Linked DNA regions of Homo sapiens: region 2 is linked to region 1. The links come from fine-mapping of genetic effects on gene expression. A gene starts in region 1. The other region holds a variant in brackets. All regions are shown on one strand. Distances are between the middles of the regions.

Region 1 (5,382 bases):
TCCTGCCCACATGTTTGAGGATTCATTGAAGAGCTGAGTTCTAGGGCCCCTGGCCCCATCAGAGCCACGGATGCACAGAGTGAGGAGGAAGGGAGAAAGCACACCTTGGATCAGAGAAGACAAAGCTTCTATCTTGCTCAGTAGCTGATGCTCAGTGAGCAGGTGCCAGGCCCGGCCAAAGAGGCCTCAGGGACAGCCTGGCCCCTTCAGTGTTGCCTGTCTTAACCTCATCTCTGTTTGAGGAGAGTGGCTAGGAAGTGGGGGCTCCTTCCACCCAACCCAACCTTCCTGCTTGGTTTTGATCTCAGGAAGGGAAAGCCCCTGCCCCTCTTTTGAAGCAGCAGCCGGCACCACTTGTCTCTTCTCTCCTTCCCGCAGGCACTTCTGTTCATAGTGCTGCCTCTTGCTGGCTCCTTCTGCTTCTGCTTGGTCCTCCTGCTGATTGGGAAGAAAGTGCACCAGTGAGGTGATGGGGGGCTGGAACTCTTAAAGGGGCAGCTTTATTTCTGTTGAAAATTTGTTTGCCTAGCATGTTATTTTTTTTTCTATCTTTCCCCATTAAATACAATTTTGTGAGAAAAGTAAACCAGAAATAAAGTGACCATAATCACCATTTAAATGTTAATTGTAGGTGTTCTGGCTTTCCTCTAAGGATTTTCAAGCAGATCAAGTACTAATGCTGGCAACCATCATCAGCAATCAAATCCAATTTGAGGATTTTTTACTGAAGGCATAAAGGTCGGGGGCCACAGATCTGAGCGAGGCCGTCCTTGTTGCTTTAAGGGCTCTCAGTCCAGGGCTGAATACTAGAATTCCATGAATAAATAAGTCACAGAGATAATTTGAAAATCCCCAGCACCATTTTTGCCAATAACTGTTTCTCCATAGAGTCTTTTTGACCAGAGGAGTTTACAGGTAGCCAAATCTACAAGCCACTTTGAGATGTCGTCTCCCCTTGGCTGCCCACTGGTTGATTTTCCATCAGTCAACCAGCATCTGTTGAGGACTTGGTCCCATGCAAAGTAAATAGACATCTAAGCAAAGTCCCAGTGGATGCTTGAGTTGCAGAATCTTAGAGCCTTGTTTCTCTATGTTAATGATGTGCTTTCTTTCCCCCCGTAAAACAATGTGAAAGAGACCAGACCCTGGGCCCCTTGTAGCTCAAATGCTGAAGTCATTCATGCTTGGAGCTGAGGCACCTTCTACTGGCTCCAGCCCTGGAAGAGCTTCCCAGGTTCTAGGTTCTAATCTGGGATCCCCCTCTAGGGGAAATATCAGATCTTGAGCATTTTAATGTCTTAGGGTCTCTGTTTCTTCAGGAAAAAAATGAAGTTAAAAGGTATTTGGATGATTTTGGTAATATGAGATAATACTGTAGAAGCATATTCAAATAGAAGGGAGAATGTCAGAGAAGTATGAGCCAGAGGGCTGCTGGGTGTTTTATGGAGAAACTGAGGCCCAGATAAGTGACTTGCTTGGAGTCACACACAGAGCTACCGGCACCCTGCTCTGTCAGGGCTCAGTCTGCTGTCCTTCCCAAGAGAGTTCTAGCCTTAGGATTTGAAAAATGTGCCAATACTATTCCCTCTGTATAACGACACGAAGAAGGCAAATTACATGCCTAGGACTCCAGAATGCTCATGTCCTGAAATGCCAGAAAGCGGTCCCGCCCCTTCCCACAGACCTTTCTCTGCACGGAGGCCAGGGAACCTTTCCCTCCAGGGAATTGGCTAAAGGGATCCACTCCTTCCTGGATCAGAGGTGGAGGTTGAAGGGAGTAGGAGGCTCGGTTAAACCCTCCACGTGCAGAAAGAGAATTTCAGGCCAGAAGGGAGACGGGCAGCCGGTGCGTGGGATACTGGGCACACACCCAGTGGTTTTCCCATTTCTCAGAGGAGGAGCTAGCAGAAGTCTTTTGCTCAAGGCACCTGGTGACCGTGCGAGGAAAGTGACAGTGGAACCCAGTTTAACAGTATCCTAACCCCGAACTCAAGGACCACGCAAGGGCAGTCATTTGTTCCTATCCTTGCTGCCCACTGAATCCAGGGCCTATAGCTCGCTGACCTACTAGGTGCGCGCCTAAAGGCATGCCTGGAGGGCCTGGGTGCGGGCACGTGGAGCCACGGGGCTGGTGAAGGTGACCGCCTTCTCCTTCCTGGACCCGCGTGCTACGCACTACAGACCTGAGGGATGCTCAGGCCCGCAAAGTTTGCTCCACTACTCGGGGGCTCAAGGAGCTGTGCTTGAGGTGGCAGGGGGCGACCTTCAACCCCACGGCTGTTTGTGCTGTCTTTTCTAGTTCAAAACTAATTCCCAGTGGTGGGGGTGGGCTGGGCTTCAGAGAGGGGTCCCATTCCCGAAGCCCGCGTCCTGGTCCCGCCAGCCCACCTCCTGTATCCCTGCCACGGCCCCTGCGTCCCGGGTCCGGGTCCGGGTCCTCAGCTCTGTGGCCGCTCCCACTAGCTGATTTTGACAGTGGGGGGTGGGAGAGGGTTCCCGAAAGGCAGGGGCGGGCGCGGCGAGCCCCTGCCAGATCCGGGGATGATAACGTGCCTGCTCCATGTCGCGGCTTCTAGCTGTCCAGGCTCCGCCCCCTGTGAGTGTGTAAGTGTGTGATGCTGCCGCGGCCGCCGCCGCCGCCTGTGCAGCCGCTGCCGCCGCCGCCGCCGCCGCCGCCGCCGCCGCCGCCGCCGCCGCCGCTGCCGCCCCGGCTGCCGCGCCGCGCCGCTGCCTCTGCCCCGGCCGCCCCCGCCGCCGCTGCCGCCGCCGGCCCGCAGCCAGCCAGGCGGGCGGCCCAGCCCGCCTGAGCCCGCAGCGGCTGCCGCCGCAGCGTCGGGTCGCTGGGTGCGCGGGCTACCGCGGACCGAGCGGACCCGAGTGGGCGACCAGGCGCTTGCCCGCCCAGTGCCACTGCCGCCGCTTCCTCGCCGGAGCACAGGACCAGACACCTCCAGCGCCCGCTGCTGCTGCCGATGCGGCCCGGACACTTTTAGCTGGGCGGGAGGGCTGGAGAGCCGGGGGCCGCCGAGAACCGCCAGCGAGCTGTGCCGAGAGCCGCGCCGACCCGCTGCGATCAGGGACAGGCGCCCGCCCGCCGCCGCCGCCTGGCCGCTATGGATCTATTCGACTTTTTCAGAGACTGGGACTTGGAGCAGCAGTGGTAGGTGTTGATTTTTGCCTTCTCCTTTGATGAGCGAGTCTCCTGGCGAAGTCTGAGGTTTTCGCCTTTGTTAAGAGGAGCTGAAGCTGTCGTGGGGGGCGCCCCGGACTCCCTCCCACTTGCTCTCAGCCACCTCTGGCCCCGGCCGCGCTGACTCCTAGGTCGGATGCCGGGGTGGGGGGAGGTGCGGGAAGAGGGAGGGATGCGGACCCGAAAGCGTCGCTTTGCGCTCCAAGTCTAAAGAGTTGCATTTGGCTCACATCGAATTCGGTGCCGCCCGAGGGCTGAACCGCACGACCTCCCAGGAGCTTTTCTCTCGGAGCGGCTTGCCGGTCTGGCCTCCTTGAGCCCCGGATGCCGCCCGCCCGAAATGTCTCAACTTTCCAGGTGCCCAACGCCCGCGGCGGGCCATGGGGGAAAGGCAACGGCCAGGTGCGGCCAGCAGCCCTCTGCTTCCTTGGTGGCCACCGCCCCCGCTGCCGCCACCTCCATCCCTGCGCTGCGCGGCGCGCACACCTTTCCTTCTGCCGACTCAGCCCAAGTTCCCTGCACTCCCGGGTGGAGCAGCGGCTTTGGGGGCCACCACTCAGGGGACCTTGGTTCGAGGCCGACTTCGGCGCTTGGCTTTCAAGACTGAGGGTTTTCGGAGTTGGCCCCCCAAATCCGCAGCTCTGATGTCAATGCACATTTAATTACCGGATGGACCCCCTTCGGCCTCCCACTGGGAGGCAGCCGTAGTTTTTTGTAAGGGACCTCCAGCTCAGATTCAAAGGTTGAGTCAGCTCTTCACAAAATACCCTAAACTTGTCGCTGAGACATTTTGAAAGATGGTAGAAAGGTGACTGGGGACCTGGAAAGTTGTTAACTCTCTTAGAGATGTGCGTGCGCGTGTGCATAAATACTGATATACATATCTATTAACTTTTCAAAAACTTCACCTACTACAAACATTATCACAGTTTATTTGTCATAATACTTAAACGTATCAGATTCCCCCCGCAGTCTAAGGAATTAGATGGGGAGGGGGCGCAGTGGTAACCGCTTAAAATTGCATTCTTGGTTATTGCCTTTTAAAATGTATTTAGAATGATCTGTAGTACCTACCAATAGTGCGAAATCTTTTGCAATGTTAAACTACTAGCGGCCGTTGGTTATGAATGCTGTGTATTTTTACAAGGATTTCCCCTGTTGATGTGATATTTTAGGCAATTTCCTTCTTTAAAAAAGGGTCATATGCTTAGCCAACAGCTTCATTATGCCAATCATGCCTCCTTTAGTTGCAAATCCAAGATAGTCAGAACTTAAATACATTTTATTTTACAGCAATTCCGGATAAATCCTTGAAGCGCAAATTATGCTGTATCAGTATTAATCTATAAGGCGTTTTGGATACCACGGTTTTATCAGCTCTGTAGAAATACATTGTTACATTAAAAAATGCTGTTATTTGAAAGTAAAAATTACTATAAAATTATTGCTCAATTAGATATTATGCTTCTGCACACAGCCTTTACTCTGCTTCACTAATTTATTTTGCAGACAACTGATAACCATAGCACTCTATTTGCATACAATTTGCCTAATATGTGGTGTGGGTTACATCGTTAATTTAACAGACATTGTTATAATTAATTTCATGGGTATAGTTCAAATGTTAAACATATACAAGGTATTAGGTTTTTAGAAACATGTTTTTTATATTAATTCCGGTTTAATCTTATGCATATGCAATTGCATATTTAAAGGGAATGGACTCTTTTATGTTTGATTTCTTTAAAAAAAATGATAGGCTCCCTCACCCCTGTGGGAGGCTTTCTTTTTCTTATCTTAAGGAAAATGCAAAACCTTTTTTTCCTCCAGATCCCTAACTGAGACACATCAGTTAAGAAGCATAGACTTGGACACTTCGTGAATATTATGTGAAATACTGATTAATTAGTGTAACGCATCTGCATAAATAAGCCTGTCCTTTCCCTCTGTACATGATCCAGGAAAATTTCTCCTTCTTACTGCTCGTGAGTGGCACACTTCGTGATGCATCTCTGTTTATAAACATTTGTAATGTGGTTGTGCTTTTGTGTTTTGTATAGCTCCACAGAGAAAAGGAACATAAATGTGACAATAGTGGATGAACTAAAAAGCTTGACATTGTCTTGAGTGGAAATTGGTACCTTTCCCACTTCTCTTTGGAAGTCCAGAGCATGCCAGTTACGTGTTCATTA
Region 2 (5,382 bases), 24 kb before region 1:
AAACACAATTAGGAAAGTAGGCTTAATTAAAAGACAAAGTATTCTAAGCTAAGATAGAGAACACATCCAAAGCCAAACAAATGACTTAGGGTTTTTGGACTTCTTGAGTTATCTGTACTACAATGCCCCTCTCTTTTATGGGTCATTGAGAGTTGGCTGTAATTTCCATTTGGTGTTAAATCATGAACATATGAGTAGATATAAGCCAAGAAGCATGTACATCATCCATATGGAGCTGTTACAGAAAATACCCTGCTGATGCTGAAACAGTGAAAATAAGAAGCCAATCTTGCTGGAACAGTAAAAATAAATGTGAAGATCGTGAAGATAAAAGACCAGAGTATAGAAAAGTTGACCTTAATTTTCTTATTTTTTTCTATGCTACTCATTGTTCTATTTTTCAAATAAAAATTGCTGTTGAATACAGAGATTTGCATAAAATTCATGAAAAGTTGCATGCTAGAGGGCAGGACAAGAGAGCTTTTCAGCATAAGTGCACATATTTGTATCTCTCAGAATAATTAGTCATAGCGAACCAAGCAAACTACGTTTTTACCGTGGTGAACATTGCAAACCATTATTCAGTTATCTGTGAAAACTTCAAATGCCCTTTTCAAACACTTTTTAAAAATAGAATAGTGAATCTGTGTATTTGAGAAAAATACAGATAAGAATATGCTATATACTATCCAAGTAACTTATTAAGTCTTAAAAGAATTTTTCTTGGAGACTAAGCATCATATTTTGTAAAATTATACAGATTTAAAATGCAATAAGGTCATGTTTATCCTGCAGAAATTTGAAAACTGACATTGGTTTTAAACTTTGGTCAAATTTATTCTTGCTTTTTGACTGGGTCATTTTAGTAGTTCATTTAAAAATCATTCTAAGTAAAGTACAGTATTTGTTGTATTATTAAGGAGAATAAAGAGGAAAATCGAACAGTGAAATCTTTTTTATTTTTTCTATCATGGTTTTATTTGACTTTACATGGCTACATGGCTGAAATATCAAGGTTGGGTTATTTTTTGCATTATCTGTTTATCTTCCTTTTATAGATAAATAGCATTAGGATTTTGCTGTTGGCAAATCACCTCTTGCTTTTGATCATGATACAAGTTAACTCTCTAGCTTATGTCCAGCTAGAAAAAAAAAAGGAAACTAGCATAAGAATGGCAAATGCCATGGCTCACTCCTGTAATCCCAGCACTTTGGGAGGCCGATGCGGGTGCATCACGAGGTCAGGAGATCGAGACCATCCTGGCTAACACAGTGAAACCCTGTCTCTACTAAAAATACAAAAAAATTAGCCTGGCGTGGTGGTGGGCGCCTATAGTCCCAGCTACTCGGGAGGCTGAGGCAGGAGAATGGTGTGAACCCAGGAGGCAGAGCTTGCAGTGAGCCGAGATCGCGCCACTGCACTCCAGCCTGGGCGACAGAGCAAGACTCCATCTCAACTACAACAACAACAACAACAAAAACAACAAAAAATGGCAAATGCCTTATTTATTGACAGAAACAGTGGACCAAGACATTTGAAATCAGTTAATTCATCTGAAATAGTGGTCCCAGGTGGACCCAGATTTGAGACTTCAGTTCTATTTAGCACAACAGGGGTATAAACTAGTCAGAAATATATTATTTCAGAAACCTGAACCACAAAGTGGTCCAGGAAACAGCCTGCAAAGGTGGAAAGAGCAATGGATGAAGACTCAGGAAACCTAAGGTCAAGTCCTACTACTTTCACTAAGAAACAGGGAGACTTTGGCCAAGTCATTTCCCCTCTCTGAGCCTATGATTCTCATCTGCAAAGTAAGAACAATAATACGTCTTCTGTTTTCTTGGGAGGATAAAATCAAATCAAAGTTTTGCAAACAATAAAATGCCAGAGCTTTGTACTTCATTCTCAGTATTGAGAAAAAGTTTTGCTATTCTCCTATAAGAATTAACTATTGGTTGTTTATCTTTATGTCATGTGTAATATATAATTTGTTGTTGTTTAATAACTGTATAATGTTCCTATTCCACTAGGATGCCAGCTGGTATAGTTTACACTGAAGTCAAAACAGATAAATACAGAGATGAATCATATCAGAAAGAATAGTGGAAGCATTCGTAAGTGTTATATGTTAATGGTTATGCCCAAATCAGTTTCCATACCCAGTATTTCCATTAGGAATTTATGAAAAGTGGTTTGATTTCTTTGAGCTTCTAAATTCTATTTCGATGCCTTGTTGTTCCCTAATCCTAATTCCCTAATTTTGAAAGCCTATAAACCATCAACAGTCTTTACAATTGATTGACTAGAATATGCAGAGGGCACTGTGGGTATTCTCAAGTGGTGGCACTCAAAAAGGAACCAGGTCATTATCTGTACTCATTTTTTTTTTCAGTGACACAATGTTGCAGTGACATTATCAGTCTCTTAATCACTCAGTCAGACAATGTCACCATCTCTAAGCACTAAGCAAGCAACAGAGCACTATAGTTACGTAGGCTGTGCCTTGCTTGCATACTCCCTACACTTCCGCTGAGTACCCCACACCATCTTTCCAAATACACAAGTAGGGCTTTGTACCCCTTCCTTAAGCCAGAGGGTGTAAGTACAACAGAATGGTCAGAATGAGAAAAACTTTGAACTCCATATTTTGGTTATAGTAAGTAGTCTTAAAGTGTCAATGACAATTATTGTCATTTAGAAAGCATTTGGACTACAAGTATTCTTGGATGTCTTTCCTAGAACTGCTAGTGGCACCACTTAACTATTTTGGAACCATTGGCATACACATTGTTGGCTGGAAAATTCAACAGCCATTTCCAACTCTCTTCTCCCTGCTTCCTACAGATGTTGGAAGGCTAGGTACTTATAGCTAGGTTTGGCCAGAATTTGTTTGAGACTTGGGGAAACTATTGTGGTTTCCTGATAACAAAGCACGTGTGTC[T/C]TCTCCTTTTCATTCTTCCTGCTAAATTGAAGACATAATGTCTGAAGCTATAGCAGCCTTCATGTGACCATAAGGTGATAAAACCTCACCACACACACACACACACACACACACACACACACACACACACACACACACACAAACCCAAAGGCCAAAACTTTGAGTGTAGCAGAATAAAGAGATGGAAAGAGCCTGAATTCTTGAGGACACTGTTAAGCTGTTTGCTCAACAATGAGACTGCCTTACTTCATACTTAACAGTGAATATCCTCATAGATTCAAACTATACTCATCATCCGGTATTAGTTACTTTCAACCTAAAGCTTTCCTAATGAATATAAGAAGTATTCATAGGGAATATTGGCAGTTTTAGAAAGGTGAATAACATTTTTCCTTAGAAATGCCCATGTCATCCATCACTTAGATTGCAAAAGCAAAAGATTAATAAAGTATATACGAAGGAGGAGCCTGATAGTAGAATTTTTTTATTAGACATCATTTTCATATCAAAAATTTTGAATTGTCCATTGCTAATGGGAAGTCCTCTCACCTTAAATTTAAATTCTTATCTTTTAATCTCTATTGAATTATAGCAATATTTTTGTTATTTTCTACCCTCCATAAAAGGGAGTAAACTTAGTATCTACAATGTTGGGATAAAAGGCATCTTTAAATCTCTAAAAAAAAACATAAACAGACATCAAGTAGTAATTGTAGTACAGCAGCCTGCAACCTGCCTGCTAATGTAGCCTACAAAAATGACAAAAAAAGGAAGAAATGAATCAATATAAAAACCATGCCCTTATCATAGCTTAAGGACAGAGAATGCCCAAACTTCAAAGTAACTGTGAGTGAAAAGATAAAATTCACCTATTCCCAGAGTTTCATCTCTCGTGGTCCTGGCCCATGTCTGTCCTACTGTAAGGCTCTGTGGCCAGCAAAGGCAGACTGTAAGCAAACAAACAAACAAAAAACCTCAGGGAAGACAAATGAGGGAAGCTAGGAAAATGTGCTAAGTTTATTTTAAATCTACTTCCAGAAAGAGTAAGTCCACTTTAATCCCGAAAATACTAAAATAAAAAGTTTCTAGGAAGATGAGAACATGAACTATAAGGAGAGAACTTAAAATTATACATAATTAAAAGGGGCACATATGGTTTAAAGGAGTCAAGCACTCTTTAAGCAGGCAGGCATGATGTAAAAGAGCAGGCATGATATGAAGGAATTGGCTTCAAAACACATAGCTTTGGCAGGGAGAAGAAAAGTAAGAAGGAAAGGAAAAGAAATATTTGACAATTGGGTAGTCAAAAGGAATACAAAGGCAAAGGGGGGAAATTTAGGGCCCTGCAAGACAAAAGAGAACCACATCATCTAAGCACTTACAACTCCCACATCACAGCCAAAGTACCTGGTCCTTTCTATACTGACAAAAGAAGATGGCATTTAATTTGCAGTCTTATAAAAATAACTCAGTACCATAAAAATGAACAAAAGAAAACTGAAGTTAACAAAGCTATGACAGAAAATTAGGAAACAAAATATCATATATATGAACTGAGGAACCCCCCCCCCGAAAAAAAACCTATGAATCATATAAAGAAGTAAGTCAACACACCAAATAGAATTAAATAAATTTAAACAAGCTTGTGAGGCTATAAAAAACTACCTTGAGTCAGAAAGTCAAACACTAAAAGTAGAAATGAACTAAACACTGGAAGAAGTAAGAGAGATGAGTAAACTCTGCAAATAAATGGAAGAAAAATACAAAATTATCTTATAAAAGAAGAATAAATTACAAGGGATCCAAGGGAGAAGGAATGGGTTGAAATGAAAATGTAATAAGGGGCATTGAAAAAAAAATGCAATAAGGGGCAGAGAAAAAAAAGCAAAAAGATTAAAAGACCACAAAATATAAGTAAAAAACAGTCAAAAGGAAGGTAGTGGAAATGGAAGAGAGGTAAAGAAGGAATAATATTTCTATTATTGGAGTCCCTGGAGAAAAAATGCAGAAACACTGAAACAGGACTAATATTTAAAACTATGAAACAAATATCTTCCCAGAAATAGAAAAATGCCTGAGTTGACCCATGAGTACTTAGGGAAATTAACAGAATTTTCAACTCTAAAACATGACCTGGTAACATGATTACATTTAAAAAATAAAAGTAAAATCTTCTAGGCCTCTAGGCAAAGCGATCGATTAACTTACAAAACAATTGGACTGGCACAGAATTTTCATAATCAACATACAAGCAGAACAGCAATGAAGCAGCATTTTGAAAATAAAATGCTCAATGAAATAAAGTATAAACCAATAATTGTACATATTAATACAATCAGGCTCTCCTTCAAGTTTCAAGACTAGAAAACCAGTTTTCAACATTCAATAATTTAAAGAATTTGATATTCATCACCTTGTTCTGTGGAATACACTAGGGGAT

Alleles and levels. Alleles are on the strand shown, and positions count from the first base shown. SD is a standard deviation of normalised expression in the study named.
As copies of T replace C in region 2, the expression in lung of the gene that starts at base 2,633 in region 1 goes down (small effect, 0.28 SD a copy in GTEx).

What was found. PIP is the estimated chance that this variant, and not a neighbour inherited with it, causes the effect. A credible set is the group of variants that fine-mapping cannot tell apart.
Region 2: its variant is the best candidate, but not a certain one, in a credible set for the expression of AFF2 in lung (GTEx, PIP 0.84).

What each region holds. Positions count from the first base shown.
Region 1 is chrX:148,497,985-148,503,366 of GRCh38, forward strand. It overlaps AFF2 (ALF transcription elongation factor 2), which reads left to right and starts at 2,633. Exons shown (of 21, transcript NM_002025.4): 1 at 2,633-3,160. The coding sequence starts at 3,114. RefSeq lists an enhancer at 3,293-4,170.
Region 2 is chrX:148,473,743-148,479,124 of GRCh38, forward strand. No RefSeq gene overlaps it. Among named protein-coding and RNA genes, the nearest start is that of AFF2, 24 kb to the right of the region's middle. The variant T/C (reference allele first, on the strand shown) is at 2,943.